Linked DNA regions of Homo sapiens. The protein of the gene in region 1 interacts with the protein of each later gene in a biochemical or structural test. Each region holds a gene or a part of one and is shown on either strand. Other genes may lie near its edges.

Evidence for each region.
Region 2: the proteins of TJP3 (region 1) and ZNF599 interact in a test that uses a peptide from one of them, tested with the Homo sapiens proteins (one large-scale study listed by IntAct).

What each region holds. Positions count from the first base shown.
Region 1 is NC_000019.10:3,735,533-3,739,779, reverse strand, and holds part of TJP3 (tight junction protein ZO-3), read right to left. Parts: intron 4,215-4,247; coding exon 4,141-4,214; intron 3,912-4,140; coding exon 3,845-3,911; intron 3,616-3,844; coding exon 3,459-3,615; intron 1,226-3,458; coding exon 1,117-1,225; intron 884-1,116; coding exon 646-883; intron 1-645. UniProt on the Homo sapiens protein: TJP1, TJP2, and TJP3 are closely related scaffolding proteins that link tight junction (TJ) transmembrane proteins such as claudins, junctional adhesion molecules, and occludin to the actin cytoskeleton.
Region 2 is NC_000019.10:34,762,975-34,766,715, forward strand, and holds part of ZNF599 (zinc finger protein 599), read right to left. Parts: intron 1-3,741. UniProt on the Homo sapiens protein: May be involved in transcriptional regulation.

The DNA.
Region 1 (4,247 bases):
GGGATGCGGCCCCTCTAGACTCTGGGAAAGGTGGAAAATTGGTTTTCTCCTGGAGCCTCTGGGAGGGCCCAGGCCTGCCCATACCTTGACTTTAGTACTTTTGCTCTCCAGAACTGTAAGAGGATGTGTGTGTTGTTTAAAGCCACTAAGTTTCTGGGCATCTGTTACAGCAACAACAGGAAGCTCATACCAGCACCAAATGGGGCCCGCCCAGAGCCTTTTGTGGACCTCCTCAGATTGAACCACCAACACTGCTAAGCAGTGATATCATGCCTATTTATTTATTTATTGAGACAAGAGTCTCACTCTGTTGCCAGGCTGGAGTGCAGTGGCGTGATCTCGGCTCACTGTAACCTCTGCCTCCCAGGTTCAAGCGATTCTCCTGCCTCAGCCTCCCAAGAAGCTGGGATTATAGGCATGTGCCACCACGCCCAGCTAATTTTTGTATTTTTAGTAGAGACGAGGTTTCACCATGTTGCCCAGGATGGTCTCGATCTCTTGACCTCATGATCTGCCCACTTCAGCCTCCCAAAGTGCCAGGATTACAGGCCTGAGCCACCGCGTCCAGCCCAATCGAGCCCATTTCTAACGGGGAGACTGAGGCTGAAGCAGAAGTGCCCCACTGCAGGAGCACACAGTCCCCACCTGCTCTGGTTGGGAATGATGCCCCGCTCTTGCTCCCGCAGGTCACGACCCATGCGCACCGCCAGCCAGTGGCCTCCTCGTGCGTGGCTCTGCCCGGGGCCGGGGTGCAGCGTGTCCAGCACGTGGAAGACGTCGCCACGGGTGAAGCCCAGGCCAGACGGTGGACTGGGCTCCAGCTCAAAGTGAGTGCGGATGTAGAAGGAGTCACCCACGCGGGACTGCACCATTTTCCAGAAAACTGGGGAGAGCGGGAGGCCACATGAGCTGCCTGGGCTGCTGCCTGATCTGAGCCCTCCCCACCCGAGAGTGGGCCTGGCTGGAGATTTGGGGCACTCTCCCTGTAGGGGCCAGGGAGAGGGATGGAGGGTGCAGAGATGCAGATTCAACCACATCCCTGCACTCACCACCAGGCCACACAGCCAGGTCCTCCCCCCGCAACACACAGGCACACCCATATCCACGCGCACTCACTGTCCTGCTTCCTCTGCGTCACCAGCTCCATCTCCTCGCCTGGTGGCAGCCCCAGCAGGAACTGCACTGCCTCCTCCCGTGTCAGGTTCTGGAATGGCACGTCATTCACCTGCCAGAAAGCAAGTGCAGCTATAGAAAAAGCTCTGGTACCTCTTGGGCGTGCATGAGATCCTGGACCTTCCTCTGGGCAAAACTCAGCCCCAGCTGCTTCCAGAGCTGCTGCCAAGGGACCCGGCAGTTCCCCGAGGGCTTTCCGACTGGGGTATCACCCTATGGCTGTGTGATGTGTGACACAGACAGCTGGTGGCATTGTAAGGATACAAGAGTTTTGACACAGAAACGGGCACAGGCACTGCACTTGTCCTCAGATAACCAAATCATGGTGGGTTGTCAATATCAAAACATGGGAACAGAGGTCATGGCATGGAGCTCGATGGAAACTGTGTGAAATGCTCAAAAGAACTCAGACGTAGTCACAGTAGTCACAGGGTCGTGACAGGGACAACGATATATGGACACACAGTGGGTCACAGATGCCTACCACCAGGGTCATGACAGGGACAACAATATATGGACACAGCCATCTGCTCTCCGGGTCATGACATGGACAGCAATATACAGACACAGCCACCTGCTCTCAGGGTCATGACATGGACAGCAATATACAGCCACCTGCTCTCCGGGTCATGACATGGACAGCAATATACAGCCACCTGCTCTCAGGGTCACGACATGGACAGCAATATACAGACACAGCCACCTGCTCTCAGGGTCATAACAGGGACAGCAATATACTTGCACAGCTTGTGGGCACAGACACCTACTCTCGGGGTCATGACGTGGATGTCAAGGTTAGAATCCCACAAGCAAAATGAGTAGAAATACAGTAAAAAATACCATGACCCTCAGGCAATTTGGCATCAAGTTTTCACCCAGCCAGTGGGCTTATGACATGGAAAGTGGGGAGCTGTGACTCCATCATGAATCACAACTCACACTGCAAGGTCAAGACACAAGCAAGGTCATGAGAGCAAAGTGGGGGTGAGACTTGGTGAGTGAACTCGCGCAAGGGACAGGGGAGACAGCCTGGGGATGAGATGAGGCAAGGACAGAGATGGGGGGATGATGAGGGGCTGTGGATCCTGGAGGTAGTTATGACACTGTCATGAAGGCAGGACACAGGCAAGGTCACAACACAGACACAGGGGATGGTGGCACAGAAAATGACTATAAGTGGACATGGAGATCATGAGAGAATGATCTGTGACCTGACCACACGATTAGGACATACAAGACGGTCATGACACGGTCAACACAGCCAATGTCAGGAACAAGAGGATTGCGACCCAGACAAGGTCATGACATAGGCAATGAGGCTGTGACCCAAAGTCCTGACATTGATAACAAGGAGATTGTGACATTGATAACAAGAATGTCACATGAACAATGTCATATGACATGAACAACAAGATTGTTGTTCCCAATCTTGAGCACAGTGTCTCAAGCTTATAATCTCAGCACTTTGGGAGGCTGAGGCGGGTGCATCACTTGAGGCCAGGAGTTCAAGACCAGCCTGGCCAACATGGTGAAACCCTGTCTCTACTAAAAACACAAAAATTAGCTGGGCATGGTGGCGGCCACCTGTGATCCCAGCTACTTGGGAGGCTGAGTCAGGATGATCCCTTGAACCCGGGAGGCGGAGGTTGCAGTGAGCCAAGATCACACCCCCGCACTCCAGCCTGGGTGACAGAGCAAGACTCTATCTCAAAAAAAAAAAAAAAAAAAGTTAGCCAGGCGCAGTGGCTCATGCCTGTAATCTCAGCTACTTGGGAAGCCGAGGCAGGTGGATCACCTGAGGTCAGGAGTTTGAGACCAGCCTGGCCAACATGGCGAAACCCTCATCTCTACTAAAAATATAAAAATTAGCCGGGCGTGGTGGTGGACAACTGTAATCCCAGCTACTCAGGAGGTGAGGCAGAAGAATTGCTTGAACCTGGGAGGCAGAGGTTGCGGTGAGCCAAGATCACACCATTGCACTCCAGCCTGGGCAACAAGACCAAAACTCCATCTCAAAAACAACAACAACAAAAAATGAACCCAGATAAGGTCAAGGCACAGAAAAGGAGGTTGTAACTGGACGATGAGGTCATGACCTGGAAGATAAGGTCGTGACATCAGCAAAATCATGACACAGCCAAGGAGACACTGAAATGTTCAAATACCCATCTGGGGTCTCGACAGTCCCCAGGTGGACCCAAGGGGAGGACTGGAACAGACAAGGGCAGGACCTAGCACACTGCACGCCCATGATCAGTGGGGCTGGCCAGCCGCCCCCGGAGCACCTGCAGAATCTGATCTCCCTCCTGGATGCCCTGCCCGTCGGCCGGGCTGCCCGCCTGCACCCCGGACACGAAGATGCCCACGTCATTGCCCCCTGCCAGCCGCAGCCCGATGCTCTTGCCCTTGAGGAAGCGGACCACACGCGTGTCGGGGCTGTACCTGCAAGGGGAGGCAGAGATGGGGTCAGAGCAGAGTGGGCGGACAAAGGGAGGGCTCAGCATTGTCCTTGGGAAAGCCCCCACCCCCTCCAGGCCTCAGTTTCCCCAAAACCCCCACTTAATGGTCCCACTCAACACAATGGATACAAGCAGGCAGGATTGCGCTGATGAGGGAGGCAGCCTGGGATGTAGGAGTTTTGAGCGGGTTTGCTTTCTTCTGGGGTACATACCCACGATCCTCCATGCTCTGACTGCTGGGCACTCTGTAGATGTCATAGCTGCTTTCCCTGGGCAACTCTGAAAGGGAAAAGCCAGTCTCTTTCCCAAGCACACTGGCTCAGTCCAGCCTCCAAACCTTTGCTTTATGTCCTCATCCTGGAAGGACTGTCACCCACCTCGAGTCCTTCTCAGGAAACCATGTCTCACCACTTAGGCTCAGGCCAACCTCCCCCAGCTCTGCCTGGCACAGCCTTGCTGTCAGGGATCAGAAATGTCAGGGACAGGGGTGCTCAGAGTCACCACCCACCTGACCGTTGCTCATCTGGTTCCGAGATGGTTCTGGAATCTACTGAACTTTCCCGCCGAAGCCGGGGACTCTCCCTGGTGGGGAACAGATTGGGAGTGAGGCAGGGA
Region 2 (3,741 bases), about 31 Mb from region 1:
TATTTTACATTACTCAAATTACCAAAACGGACAAACAAAAACAGAACATCTGAATAGCCTATATTTATGAAAAAAACCTGAATCTTCCTACAGAATAAGCAATGGAATAACAAATCTTAAAGTGGCCATGTATGCAAGGGAGGCAGCATAGGAATGGGAAAGGAAAGAAACACATCAACAGATGCAGGAAGCAGGTCATGTTCTTGTACTTGGCGAAAGGTTTGTAGGTGTTCATTACAATCTTTTTAAAGGAGGATGAATAAATATATTAATAAAATGCAATGAAAGAAAATAAAACAAAAAACCAGGACACGCATTGACTAATGATGACAATGTGTCATAAATCATTATTTATAATTTTTCTAATTCTGCACACCTAGGGACAATTATGAAAGTCAGAGGGGGGCCAGGCATGGTGGCTCATGCCTGTAATCCCAGCACTTTGGAAGGCCAAGACAGGCGGATCACTGAAGGTCGGGAGTTCAAGACCAGCCTGGCCAACATGGTAAACTTCTTGTAAGAAGTGAAGGCACTGAGGGAAGGCCATGTGAGCACAAAGTGAGAAGGCGGCCATCTGCAAGCTGAGAAGACAGCCCTTATCAGAACCCAACAATGCTGGTACCCTGACCTTAGACTTGCGGCCTCTAGACCTGAGAGAAAACACATTTCTGCTATATAAGCCACGCAGTCTATAGTATTTTATTACAGCAGCCAGAGCAGACTAACACACTTTTCTAAGATTCACTTTCCTCATCTGAAAAACTGGGATACTCTCAGTTCCTGCCTACAAGTTGTTAGGAGAAAAAGCATACAAAATATTGATTTGTGGCTGGGTGTGGGGGCTCACACCTGTAATCCCAGCACTTTGGGAGGCTGAGGCAGGAAGATCACTTGAGGCCAGGAGTTACCAGCCTGGCCAACACAGCAAAACCCTATCTCTACTAAAAATACAAAAAATTCAGCCAGGTGTGGTGGTGCATGCCTGTAATTCCAGTTACTCAGGAGGCTGAGGCACGAGAATCACTTGAACCCAGGAGGCAGAGGCTGCAGTGAGCCGAGATTGTGCCACTGCACACTAGCCTAGGCGACAGAGTGAGATCCTGTCTCAAAAAAAACCCAAAAACCAAACAAAAGTTCATTCGTGTGACAAAGAATAAATGTTTGGTAAACTGTAGACCACTGTCTATTATCATTATAGTTGAATTTAGCAATCAGGATGGCAACAGTGACCTGGGCAAGAACACTTTAAGTGCTGTGGTGCTGAGAAACACCACTACCAGGCATCAAAGAGTAAAGGGAAAGACACCAACTGCTCAGGCGTACATGGAACAATGAAGACTCTCATACGTGGCTAGTGGAAATGTGAAATGGTGTAGTTACTCTGAAACTGGTGGTTTCGATTAAAGCTAATCATATGCCCACACTTGATCTGGCCAGTCCACTTGTATGTATATTCCCAACAGAAATATGGGTTTATATCCAACAAAAAATACAATCAAGAATATTCATAAGAGTAGTCTTCATAATATTCCAAAAATGGAGACCAAGTCAAATGTCCATCAATAGGAAAATGGGTATATGTAGTCTATTCATTCAATGATGGTAATGAACTAACTCCAACTATATGCAACCACATGAATGAATCTGAGTCATAAAGATTATCAAAAGAAGTCAGGACAGAGTATGTACTAGGGGGTTCTATTTATATGCCTTCAAAACTAATGTATGGTGATATAGAGTATAAACACTGACTACTTTTATAGAAGGGGATACTGACAAAGAATGAGCACAAGGAGCCTGTTAAGTGCTGAAAACACTGTATTTCTTGAACTGTGAGATGGTTTCTCTGACTTGTACATATATAAAACTTTATAGAAATGAAACTTTATGATTTGTACACTTATTATGTATAAATTGCACCTCAGTACAAAAATAAGGGAAAAAATAAATAAAGGAAAGTCTTGTGTAGATGTCTCTTCAAAGAATGAGAAGACTTCTCCAACAAGCTTGGCTGTTCAGGTGAAATAGAGTCAACAATATGTAGATGCTGCTGGAGACGTAAGAGCACTAAAAAAAAAAAAGTCTCCCCCAGGTATCAGAAACATCATCATTTTTTTTTAATGTTGAGTAGAGAGGGGATGAAAATATAGAAGAGGTAGGAAGTAAGTGAAGAAGCATGTTCCCTGATGCAGCTGAGAGATTCACGTATGGCTTCTCATGATCCCCAAGTCATAGTGTTCACACCCTTTTGTAGTTCCCCTGTTAAAATGTTGGCAGGACCTCGATTTGCTTCTAAAGTATAGAATATGGCAAAGATGATGGAATGTACATGATAAAATATATGTAATTTTATAAGACTGGAACATCCGTCTTGCTGGAGTCTCACACAGTGGCTTGATTTGAAGAAGTGAGCTGATGGTGATGATGAGCTATGAGCTGCCTATGACACGCCTGAGAGGACCCAGCTAAGCTGTGCCTGGACTCCCAATCCATAGGTGGGAGATAATAAATAAGTGATGTTTTCAGCTGCAGGGTTTGTGGTAATATTGTTACATATTAATAGTAGATGGCTAATACACCTGAGAAGGCAGAAAGTGTAATCTAGATTCTGCTGGAGAAATTAGCCATGGCCAGGATGATAACTCTTCCACAGAAGTGAGAAGGAAGCTGCAGGATAAGTCAGATGAACATGAATCAGTAAGTGTCAAAAAGCAAGAAAATCAAGTGTGTAGGCTTTATTCATAAAGTAGGTCAGATGCTCTGACATCAGTGGCAAGGGAGGCGGTGATACATGGAACATGTGAGTGGATGCAGATATAACACACAGGGCTGACCAGATGCACAGAGCACATGGGGGAAAACAGCGAGGAATCTGGTAGCATTATGCAGGCAAGAGATGATCACTTGGCCTAGAGTACTAATGCTGGAGCTGATGGAAACTAGTGAAGGTGAGGATTCAGGAGACATGAGTGATGTGAAATGGTCAAGATTCGGGGATGGCTGGATATTGGGTATGAGGGAGATGGAGGTGTTGAGGGGTTGTCCACGTTTGTTTTTAGCCTTCTCCACTCATTGAAAGAGGCATTAGCTGAAAATGGGGGTGATCATGAGGTCCTTTTAGGCATGATGAGTGTGAGGTGCCTCTGAGACATTCAAGTGAAGATGTGGAATAGGGGAGAGGGGTGAAGGCTGACTGAGCAGGCAAGAAGGACACTAGAGGGGTGAGATGGTGAATCTACAGTGTCACAAATCCACCTGCTTGATGGCTCCAGCTTCCTCTGGCAGCCCAGATGTGGGACTGACAAAGGCAATCATCACCTTGAGGTTTTTAGAAGACAGGAGGGCCAGAAAACAACAGGGCTAGGGAGTGCTTCTGCGTATCTGATACATAAATGAAAAGATGAATGGATGGATCAATAAATGACGGGCTGGAGAAGGTGAAAAATGGTGGGATGCAGAGTGTAGTTTGAAATAGTAATCTGCAGGAAAAGAAAGGACTGTCTTCTGAATGCAGAAGAATGTCTGAGCTATCACTATTCCTTATGACTAACACTACATTAATATTACTTACAAGTAACTTCTGTTGAGCCACTCCGGGTCAGGCAGTGTGCTAGGCAGTTTCCTGCTATGTGATCACATTCCCAAACAACCCAGTCATGCAGAAACTATCATCACTATCTTTCAAATGTAGGCTAAGTGTATCAGATAAGTATATGTTCACTATACCCATAGGCTCTTCTC